Linked DNA regions of Homo sapiens: region 2 is linked to region 1. Evidence: fine-mapped expression QTL. Tissue or cell type: fibroblasts. Region 1 holds a variant in brackets; the other region holds the start of a gene. All regions are shown on one strand. Distances are from middle to middle.

The links. PIP is the estimated chance that this variant, and not a neighbour inherited with it, causes the effect.
Region 2: it holds the start of THEM4, and the variant in region 1 is fine-mapped to the expression of THEM4 in fibroblasts (GTEx, PIP above 0.99). The same link has a PIP of 0.9 or more in esophagus muscle and tibial artery.

The regions. Positions count from the first base shown.
Region 1 is chr1:151,871,240-151,876,387 of GRCh38, forward strand. It overlaps THEM4 (thioesterase superfamily member 4), which reads right to left. Exons shown (of 6, transcript NM_053055.5): 6 at 1-3,689. The coding sequence ends at 3,649. Among named protein-coding and RNA genes, the nearest start is that of THEM5, 20 kb to the left of the region's middle. The variant G/C (reference allele first, on the strand shown) is at 1,935.
Region 2 is chr1:151,906,923-151,912,070 of GRCh38, forward strand. It overlaps THEM4 (thioesterase superfamily member 4), which reads right to left and starts at 2,589. Exons shown (of 6, transcript NM_053055.5): 1 at 2,438-2,589. The coding sequence starts at 2,536. RefSeq lists a silencer at 2,316-2,625 and enhancers at 2,866-2,985, 2,974-3,561.

The DNA of each region.
Region 1 (5,148 bases):
GCTTGAACCTGGGAGGTGGAGGTTGCATTGAGCTGAGATTGTGTCTCTGCATTCCAGCCCAGGCGACAGAGCCAGACCCTGTCTTGAAAAAAAAAAAAAAAAAAGAAAAAGAAAAAAGAAAGGAAAAAGAAGGAAACAGGAAATGAGGAATAGTTCCATTAGGTCACACAGCAAGCCAGTGATGGAGTGGAGCTGGCAATTCTGATAGCATCTCTCTCCTTCTTTCTACCTGTTCTGCCACCTTTTGTTATCTTACATACTTGTCAAAATACAACCTGAGGAAAGCAAGAGTGCCAGGGCATGGTGAAGGCTAGGAATAGTCTGCTGCAAAGCAGGGAAGCCATTTTTCCCTCACTGGCTATGGGGAACCCTATGTTAACAGTGACTGAGCTTTTTCCTTAGTTGATCTTGTGCAGCATCTAACCTGGATGTGAGCAAACCAGTGTAAGAAATGAAACTGTAAAGGGAAAAAAGTGGATACGAAGGGAGGCAGGCATACTTAACATGAAGAAAACCTGGTCATTTGGCACTCTTTCAGTTAGGTTCTTTCACTTGGCTGGAGGTCTGGTGTGCCATAGCAGTTCTGCAAGCCTGCCAGAGAAATCTAACGATGAGAGTACAGTACCTTCATTGTCTAAACTTCCTCCCAACTAGTTAAGTGAAACTAGCTAAATGAGCAGCGCTGGCTTATTCCTTCGGAGTCATATTTTTTAACATGTGAAATATAATTATTGTAAGAGTCCACTCTCTTAAGTTTCAGGATTTGTTGGAAGACTGGGAATAGAGGGTGGCCATTGCCAGACCTGTAACTTGTAGAGCTGTGAGCCCAGCCATCTCCTGGGGCACTTTCCCAGGCTCTCTCAGAATTTCTGGGAGAAGGAACTGCCAGCTTCACCCCTGCAGTGCCCCCATGTCTGCTGGGCCCTTGCAACTTGAGAACTGGAGTTGGGCACTAGAGACAGGGCTTCCAGGATGTGGGTCTTCCTCTGGCTTGGCCATCCCAGGTCAGTCAGCTCTGGCAATGGAGGGCTCCAGCTGATCTTTTGGCTGTGGAAGGATGACTGGGTAGGGTACCACAAGGCTGTCCCTAAGTTATTAGGTTGAACCATAGGAAATTGTCAATATTTGACCATTCTGTTCTTCGAAATAGTGATTTCATATGGTTCAGCTTAAATTTCTAATATGGGGAAAGAAAGGAAAGAAATGGAAGCCCAAATAATCTATTGCCTGCACTAGGAAGCAGAATATATTTTCCAGAACATTAGTCTCTGTAGGGAAAAGAGAGATCAGACTGTTACTGTGTCTATGTAGAAAGGAAGACATGAGAAATTCCATTTTGATCTGTTCTAAGAAAATTGCTTTGCCTTGAGATGCTGTTAATCTGTAACTTTAGCCCCAACCCTGTGCTTACAGAAACATGTGCTGTATGGAATCAAGGTTTAAGGGATCTAGGACTGTGCAGGACGTGCCTCATTAACAGTATGTTTACAGGCAGTATGCTTGGTAAAAGTCATCGCCATTCTCCATTCTCAATTAACCAGGGGCAAAATGCACTGTGGAAAGCCGCAGGGACCTCTGCCCAAGAAAGCCTGGGTATTGTCCAAGGTTTCCCCCCACTGAGACAGCCTGAGATATGGCCTCCCGGGAAGGGAAAGACCTGACCATCCCCCAGCCCGACACCCGCAAAGGGTCTGTGCTGAGGGGGATTAGTAAAAGAGGAAGGCCTCTTGTGGTTGAGATGAGGAAGGCCTCTGTCTCCTGCATGCCCCTGGGAACAGCATGTCTTGGTGTAAAACCCGATCCTATGTTCGTTCCATTCTGAGATAGGAGAAAACCACCCTGTGGCTGGAGCCAAGATACGCTGGCGGCAATGCTGCTGTTACTCTTTGCTACACTGAGATGTTTGGGTGGAGAGAAGCATAAATCTGGCCTAC[G/C]TACACATCTGGGCATAGTACCTTCCCTTGAACTTATTTGTAACACAGATTCCTTTGCTCACAGATTTTCCTGCTGACCTTCTCCCCACTATCACCCTGTTCTCCTGCTGCATTCCCCTTGCCGAGATAGTGAAAACAGTAATCAATAAATACTGAGAGAGCTGAGACTGGGGCCGGTGCGGGTCCTCTGTATGCTGAGCACCGGTCCCCTGGGCCCAGGGTTCTTTCTTTATACTTTGTCTCTGTGCCTTATTTCTTTTCTCAGTCTCTCATCCCACCTGATGAGAAACACCCACAGGTGTGGAGGGGCTGGCCCCCTTCAACTCTCCGTTCATTTTTTAGTTTTGTTGAGGCTCTTTTACAGGTTGAATTGTGTCCTCCCAAAAAAGGTATGTTGTGGTCCTAATCTCCAATACCTCATAAGGTCACTTTATTTGGAAATACATTTTTTACAGAGGTAATCAAGTTAAAATGAGGTCATTCAGGTGGGTCCATTATGACTGGTTTCCTTATAAAAAGAGGAGACTTGGACACAGAGATAGATCTGCACAGAGGGAAGACACTGTGGAGACACACAGAGGGAATGCCATGTGAAGATGGAGGACTGGAATGATGCATCTAGAAGCCAAGGAACACCTGAGGCTCCCAGAAGCCAGGAGGGAGGCGTGGACAGCTCCTTCCCTAGCACTTTCAGGAGAATGGCCTTGGTCAACACCTTGATTTTGAACTTCTGGCCTCCAGAACTGAGAGACAATGAGTTTTTGTTGGTTTAAACAATCCAGTTTGTACTACTTTGCTACAGCAGCCCTAGGAAATGAACACAGGCTCCTTCCAGTGATGAAAACCTATGCTGTTGGTAAGAAACAACAGTACAGCCTGGGTTAAAAATGGCACAGTGGTTTAATCTCTAGAATCTCAGACAACAGATTTGAGGTATTCATTCCTATAGGATCTGGCTGTGCTTCCTACACTGACCAAAAAAGATTCATGTGTTCAGATACAACAAAGCTAGCTTTCTAACTTACTAACTTACAATGTATATGCATATGCACATGCCTGTGTGTTTCCCACCATGTATTTATTCTTCATGCTTGGTTTTCTAGCATTTTCAAGTTTGCAGTAAAAGGTTCAATACACATTTATTTCTCTAGTCTGCAGTGGAGCAGGTAACATATCCTAAGGAGACAAGAGTTTTTTTTTTTTGTTTGTTTGTTTGTTTGAGATGGGTTCTTGTTCTGTTGCCCAGGTTGGAGTGATGTGGCATGATCTTGGCTCACTGCAACCTCTTCCTCCTGGGTTCAAGCAATTCTCCTGCCTCAGCCTCCTGAGTAGCTGGGACTACAGGCGTACGCCACCATGCCTGGATAATTTTTTGTATTTTAGTAGAGACGGAGTTTCATCGTGTTGCCCAGACTGATCTTGAACTCCTGAGCTCAGGCAATCCGCCTGCCTCGGCCTCCTAAAGTGCTGGGATTATAGGTGTGAGCCACAGCGCCTGGCCCGAGAGTTGTCGATATGCTCGCAGGAAGTATTTCTGTGTTAAAAAGTTGAGAAGATGGAAACTGAATCCTCTTTGTATTCAGAAGGCTGTTTCGGAAGGTCACTGTTGGCAGGCTTCTCCCTACAGGGATTCAGCAGTGAGGGAGCAGAGTATTTGGGGGACAACTGCTTCTTCTGGAGGGGCGAGAATGAGATGGAGTTCACCAGCAGCTCTTTATGTCAGACTTTTAGCAGGATTCAGCTTTATAAATAAGCCTAAACAAACAAAATAACAGCAGATGATTATATGTCAACTGACTTCAATTTGATGGACTACTCTAAATAGAAAGACATATACAAAAGAAGGATTTGATTCACATTTGTAGCTTCAGTCTATCTGTCCACTCTCATTTTTCAGCCAAATTAAGAATCAGCTTTTGACTATCACAATACTGTATTACTTCTCCCTGGGTAACCAGGTCCTCACCACTTGGCCATTTCATGGTTCCTCACTACTTCCATTAGAAATGAAAAGAACTAAAATTACAAGTGAGCCATCTGGCACCTTTATGATATTGAAAGGTTTAGTGAGACAGGAAGTACAAACCACAGCCTGGAATGGAGTTCTTAAATTGACTGTGGATTTAAGTTATTATCTTCCACCTGCTCCTTAAATCCATCATTCCTGCAAATGCTTCATACTTAAGAGGAAAAATAAATTTCTTAAACAAGATACAAAAAAATTAGCCATAAAGGGAAAAATGTAATAAATGCAACTAAATTGACATTAAAAATTTCTGTTCATAAAGAAGATACCTTAAAGCAAATAAAAGACAACTTACACACTGTAAGGAGGTATGTGCAACTTATATATCCAACAAAAAATTGTTCTAATAGAAAATATATAAAGAACATCTATAAATCAGTAAGAAAATGAGAACAAATGGAAAAAAAGCTGAACAAACAAAAATTTCACAGAATGGGAAAAAATATGGTCAATAAACATATGAAGAGACACTCAACCACACAGGTAATCAGAGAAATGCAAATCAAGATCACACCGAGAAGTCATTTTATAGTCATTTGACTGGCAAAAATCATGAAGTCTGACTTCACTAATTGCTAGAGAAGATGGGAATCTAAAGAATCTCATATATTGCTGGTGGGAGTTTAATTTGGTACAGGCTTAGAAAACAATTTTGCATTCCTCTGTAAAGCTGAATACTCACAATACTCTACCACCCAGAAATTCTGTTCCTAAGTATATGCCAAGCTCTTGCCCATGCACACCACCAGGAGACATGAACAAGAATGTTTATAGCAGCCCCATTTGTAATAGTCAGAGGCCTGTCACTGGAAGAGAGACATTCATTGTGGGACAGTCACATATGGAGTATTACACAGTGGTACAAACAAGTGAACACAGCCAACAACATGGATGAACCTCAGTACTCCAGGGAAGTAACAGGTCATGTGTGTGACTTTCCTGAGACAGTCTACACACACATAAATATAGACATATTTTTCTTATTTATGGTATCACAATATTTCACCATTTTTTAATGGCACACACATACAATATAGTTCATAGGTGAGCTGTAGTTCTTTAACCAGTCTCCTATTGATGGATAGCTATGTTTGCTACGTTTTGCCATTTTTCTTGCTATTGCAAATAATGTTGCATGAGTGACACAATCACTGGAACCCGATAGCAATCTAACACATTATAATTTTG
Region 2 (5,148 bases), 36 kb after region 1:
TGGGGCCAGATAAGAGAATAAAAGCAGGCTGCCCAAGCCAGCAGTGGCAACCCGCTCGGGTCCCCTTCCACACTGTGGAAGCTTTGTTCTTTCGCTCTTTGCAATAAATCTTGCTGCTGCTCACTCTTTGGGTCCACACTGCCTTTATGAGCTGTAACACTCACCGCGAAGGTCTGCAGCTTCACTCCTGAAGCCAACGAGACCACAAACCCACCGGGAGGAACGAACAACTCCAGACGTGCTGCCTTAAGAGCTATAACACTCACCACGAAGGTCCGCAATTTCACTCTTGAGCCAGCAAGACCATGAACCCACCAGAAGGAAGAAACTCTGAACACATCCGAACATCAGAAGGAACAAACGCCGGACATGCCGCCTTTAAGAACTATAACACTCACCACGAGGGTCCGTGGCTTCTTTCTTGAAGTCAGTGAGACCAAGAACCCATCAATTCCGACACAGTATGTAATCCTGAATTATGCACCTGTCACAATTTGATGAATTAATTGCCTTTGTGCTGCCTCTGTATCCTTGCTTTCACGCCACTATGCTTCACGCCACTGTAAGCTTGTTTCAAGCTAGCCCACCCCCTTTTAAAAGTGTGTATTAAAGTCAAGTGCTGTCTTTGTTCTGGGCCCAGCTTTTGGATGTTAGTCCGCTGGGTCTGAGTGCACTCAATAAAGTTCTCCTGTCTCACCCCATGGCCTCTCCAGTCCTCCTTCATTCCTGCAACAGAAGGATGAGTGAAATGGGGACTCAAAACCTCTCACTTTCATTTCTGAGCCTTTTGGTCTTATGGCATTCCTCTTCTTTTTGGGGGGACAGCAACGGCACCTATTTTTCTTTTTACGATACTGGAGGTGGTCCACACCCACCCCAATGGTCACCAGTGCACTCACAAGACAGTTGGGTGGGGTAGCTCCCTGGCCCCACTTCTTTACTGGCTGGGGTGCATGGTGGTGTCTGCAGCATGTGTGTGTGGTGTCCAGTAGCCACACAGGGCATAAATGAGCCACAGCCACTGCCCAGGCTCCAAGGCGCCGGCATGGCTGGCTGGCGTTCCCTACCAGGTGCCTGCAGTCTCCCCCTCCCCATTCCAGGGAGTCTAGCTCTGTCCCACAGCAATTAAGCTCCTCTCTCTGGTGGAGGAACCATTTGCATAGGAATAAGAGGTTCTTCCCCCAGGCATCCTTATCTCCTCTCCAACCCATCAGCAGTATACTTTTAAAGGAGGTTTTTCTTTTCCTTTTGGAAGACGTTTTGCTCTTTTGGGAATGATGAGGATTACCGTTTATATTTTCTGTAAAGTTTTGTGCGAAAGGATTTGTGAGGTAAGTCGTAAGCTGTAGCCAATCTGTGTGTTTTGCATGTCTTTCTGTATGCTCCACAGCAAACTTCGCTGCAGGCCTCCATCTTGTTTTACGTCCTTGGGGGCGTGGCCTGTAACCCCATTGCATAGCTTCGTTTAGCCCGGCATGGCCCAGATTCATCCTGGCTTAGGGAATGAGTCCTTTCTGGTTTGGTATCTGTATGCCCTTTCGCTATTTGTCGATTCCCCTGCCCTCCACCAACCACCTTGGATTTTCCTTTCTCTGAGCCTTTAAGTAAAGTTTGAAAGCCAGAAATATTGGCCGCTTGGTGGAGCTAAAGTTAGATAATAAGGGTGTTAAAAGAATTTTCTTAAGGAGTGCTCAGCTTAATTAAAAGTAGATATCTAAGTTGTAATTATATTTATAAGGCCTTTATGTTTTCCTTTTCTTGGACCTTATTTTGCTGGAAAAAGTGTTTCTTTGCGGTCGACTGAGTTATTTTTCTCCATTTTGCCTTGCCACTTTTAATGCCTGCATAAGAGGGGCGATCTCTGTTTTCCTCATGGAACCCCAGGAATTAAAAGCAGATAGATCCCTCTCCCTGTGATGAAAGATCTTATGGCAACTGGGTTTTCTTCTGCCTGTCTGTGTAGTTATATATGTGTTGTGTGTGATGTCTATAAAAAGATCTCTAATTAATTGACCTAAAGGAAGATAAGCGTTTGGATCAAATATTTTTTTAAAGGGAAGATAAAAGCTGTGGTATCTTTTAGTTCACGTCACTTTAATCTTTGAAAAATAAAAACAGCCTCAAATATTATTGGTAAAATACAGATGTTGTCAAAATATAAATAGACAGACTAAATTATGCAGTTCAGGTAGCGCCCTGCCGACCCTGTCTCTTAAAAAACAAAAAAACGGGGTCACCTTTCCATCCCTTTTCTAACGGTTTGAATCTCAGGACTGTATTCCTAGGCCCCTGTTGCTTATGCTGCCCTGTGGTGCCCAGGTGAGCTTTTATTCTGAGATTGGCTGGTTGGGGTATGGATAACAATCGAAGGCTCTGTTACCGCAGGCGTGTTTCTGAGTCCTGCTCCCGCCCCATGCCCGAGGGTGCCCAGACTCACCAGCTCGGGTCGCGGCTCGCTTCCCGGCAGGCGCCGGCCTACTGGCGGCAGGCACAGAGCCCCCAGCGTGCGGAGGCGCGCGGCGCAGCTCCTCAGCATGGCTCCGGGCCGCGGGGCCGCGCTTGCTCTAGCCCTGGACGGCGCACTCTACCTCCGCCACAAGAGCGCGCGTGCGAGTTAACCCCTGGGGTGGACGCAGGGCGGGGCTTGGGGAGGAGGCGGTGCGCACTACTGGCGGCTGGCTGGCCGGGGTGTGAGGCCGGCGGGGTCCGGGTAGGGCATCGCTGTTGAGTCTATCTTCTGGTTCCGGCCTTTTCTTTCCGAAGACCTCCCGCTGCGGCCAACAGCCGGGCCACTTCCGGGGCTTCTCAAAGGCAAGAGGAGCGCGGCCGGAGCGGATCCCGGTTATCGCCTTGGGCCCCTCAGCCCCTCAGCCCCGGAACCCGCGCGCCGACTGGAGGCTTTGCGGTCATCCTTCCCACATGACCCAGGGCGTACGCAGTGCTCCGTGTCCCCAAGTAGTTATCCCTCCCCCGGAAGACTGAAGTCCCTGGGGCGGGTAGGAGCGCACGCTAGGAGTAGTATGAATAAAGTGTTTTCTTGGAGGTCATGGGCAAGTCTCTGGACAGGGTTGATAGTGCTGATTTATAGAGGGCAGTCTGGGCACAAAGAGCATTTATACGATCGAAAAGCTGCTTTCCCTGCCAACAGCCCCATACCCTCCCCAGGAGCGCGCTTACGCCTTAAAAGACTCTTTTGTTATGTAAACTGACAGTTAAATTAAACGAAGGTAATGGATACTAAAGGCGTAACAGGTATTGTAACTATTTTACTGTTATCGATGCTTTTGAGGTTACTTACCTCGCTTGTATTCGTATGGTGGGAATACTAGGCGCATACCTTCTGAGCTTCGAATTCAGTAACCTCACTGGGACCTTGAAATCGGACTGGGTTGGAGTATTCCCATTACTCAGATAATGCAAATCCGGGCCATCATACCCCTTTATTTTTAAATGCTTACCAGTATGCCATAGCCCTAGTCCATCCTAAGGTGAAGACTCTAATGGGTTTTTTTTGAGACAGAGTCTCGCAGAGATACTGCTATTGCACTTCAGCCTGGGCAACATACTGATGCCCCATCTCAAAAAAGCAATAAATTAAAAAGAAAACTCGAATGACCTGAATGCATTAGATATTTTGCCTTGATTCCTTTCCCATGAACAACTCCAGCAGTTTGTCAGTAGGTAAGAACACCTAGATACATTTTAAGCCTACACTATTAACTGGGGGAAGGTGTAACATTCTGAGAGAAAGGGAATTGGGGAGAGAAGGCAATGCAGTTAGGAGGGGCCCCTTGGAATCCTAGAGCTACTGAACCGAAGATCAGGCATAAAGGATGGTTGTTGAGATTCTGTAATTCTAAGAGGTTGTATTCTGATATCTCCTAAGCACCCCCCCCAACCTCCCACATTCCCTTTATCTCAGTTGTCTTCCTTTTTAATATATTAATAGTATTGCAGTTTCCTGGTGGCAGGGATGGGGTCAGATTGCCTTATTAATTGTAACAACGTGCACGTAGTGCTTGAATACTTACTTAGCAGCAAGAATCCAAAGTATCTTTGGTGTCTGTTGTCTTCCCATGTTGTGCGTGCAGATGGAGGCACGAGCATAACGTAAATCTCTAAAATTGAGATGACTACTGTTAATGAATAGAAAAGTTTATTCAGGTAACTTAAAATTGCATCTATTTACAATTTACAGTGTAGTCAAATCAATCAATACCTATAGACTTCAACCCTGCTAAGATTGTCTATATGATTAATGTACCAATAGCTCACCTAACAGCTTCCTTTTGTTTTTTTGAGATGGAGTCTCACTCTGTTGCCCAGGCTGGAAGTGCAGTGGCATGATCTTGGCTCACTGCAACCTCTGCCTCCAGGGTTCAAGCGATTCTCCCTGCCTCAACCTCCCGAGTAGGTGGGATTACAGGCGCGTGCCACCACATCTGGCTAATTTTTATATTTTTGGTAGAGACGGGGTTTCACCCTGTTGGCCAGGCTGGTCTTGAACTCCTGACCTCAAGTGATCTGCCTGCCTCCCAAAGTGCTGGGATTACCAGCATGAGCCACTGCACTCGGCACCTATCAGCTTCTTAAAAGACCTTAGACTTAGGGCAATTAGAGGTCAGTTACACTGAGTTTAAACTTCATTAAATTTTAACTCTAAATTTTTCAAGTAGCGGCAGTGCATTTAGTTAAGTCATCCACACTCTTGCATGGCTTACTCTGGGATATTCGTGTTGACAGCACATATAAAATGTCTGGTCAGATTTGGAAGAGGAAGGGCAGGTTACAGTCTAGAAATAGGATTGATAGGCTATGGAAGTGAAGGAGTTTGAAGCTTGTATGGTTTAGGCAAGGAACAAATGTTCAATCTTGATAGAACTAGGCTTCGAATAAGCCAATGGTATGAAACTTAATAGTCTTCTCACCATTCTTTAATTTTGTAGACAGCTTTATTGAGGTGTAGTTGCCATAGGATGGGCACCGTGGCTCATACCTGTAATTCCAGCACTTTGGGAGGCTGAGGTGGGTGGATCACCTGAGGTCAGGAGTTTGAGACCAGCCAGGCCAACATGGTGAAACCCCGTCTCTGCTAAAAATACAAAAATTAAGGCCGGGCGCAGTGGCTCACTCCTATAATCCCAGCAC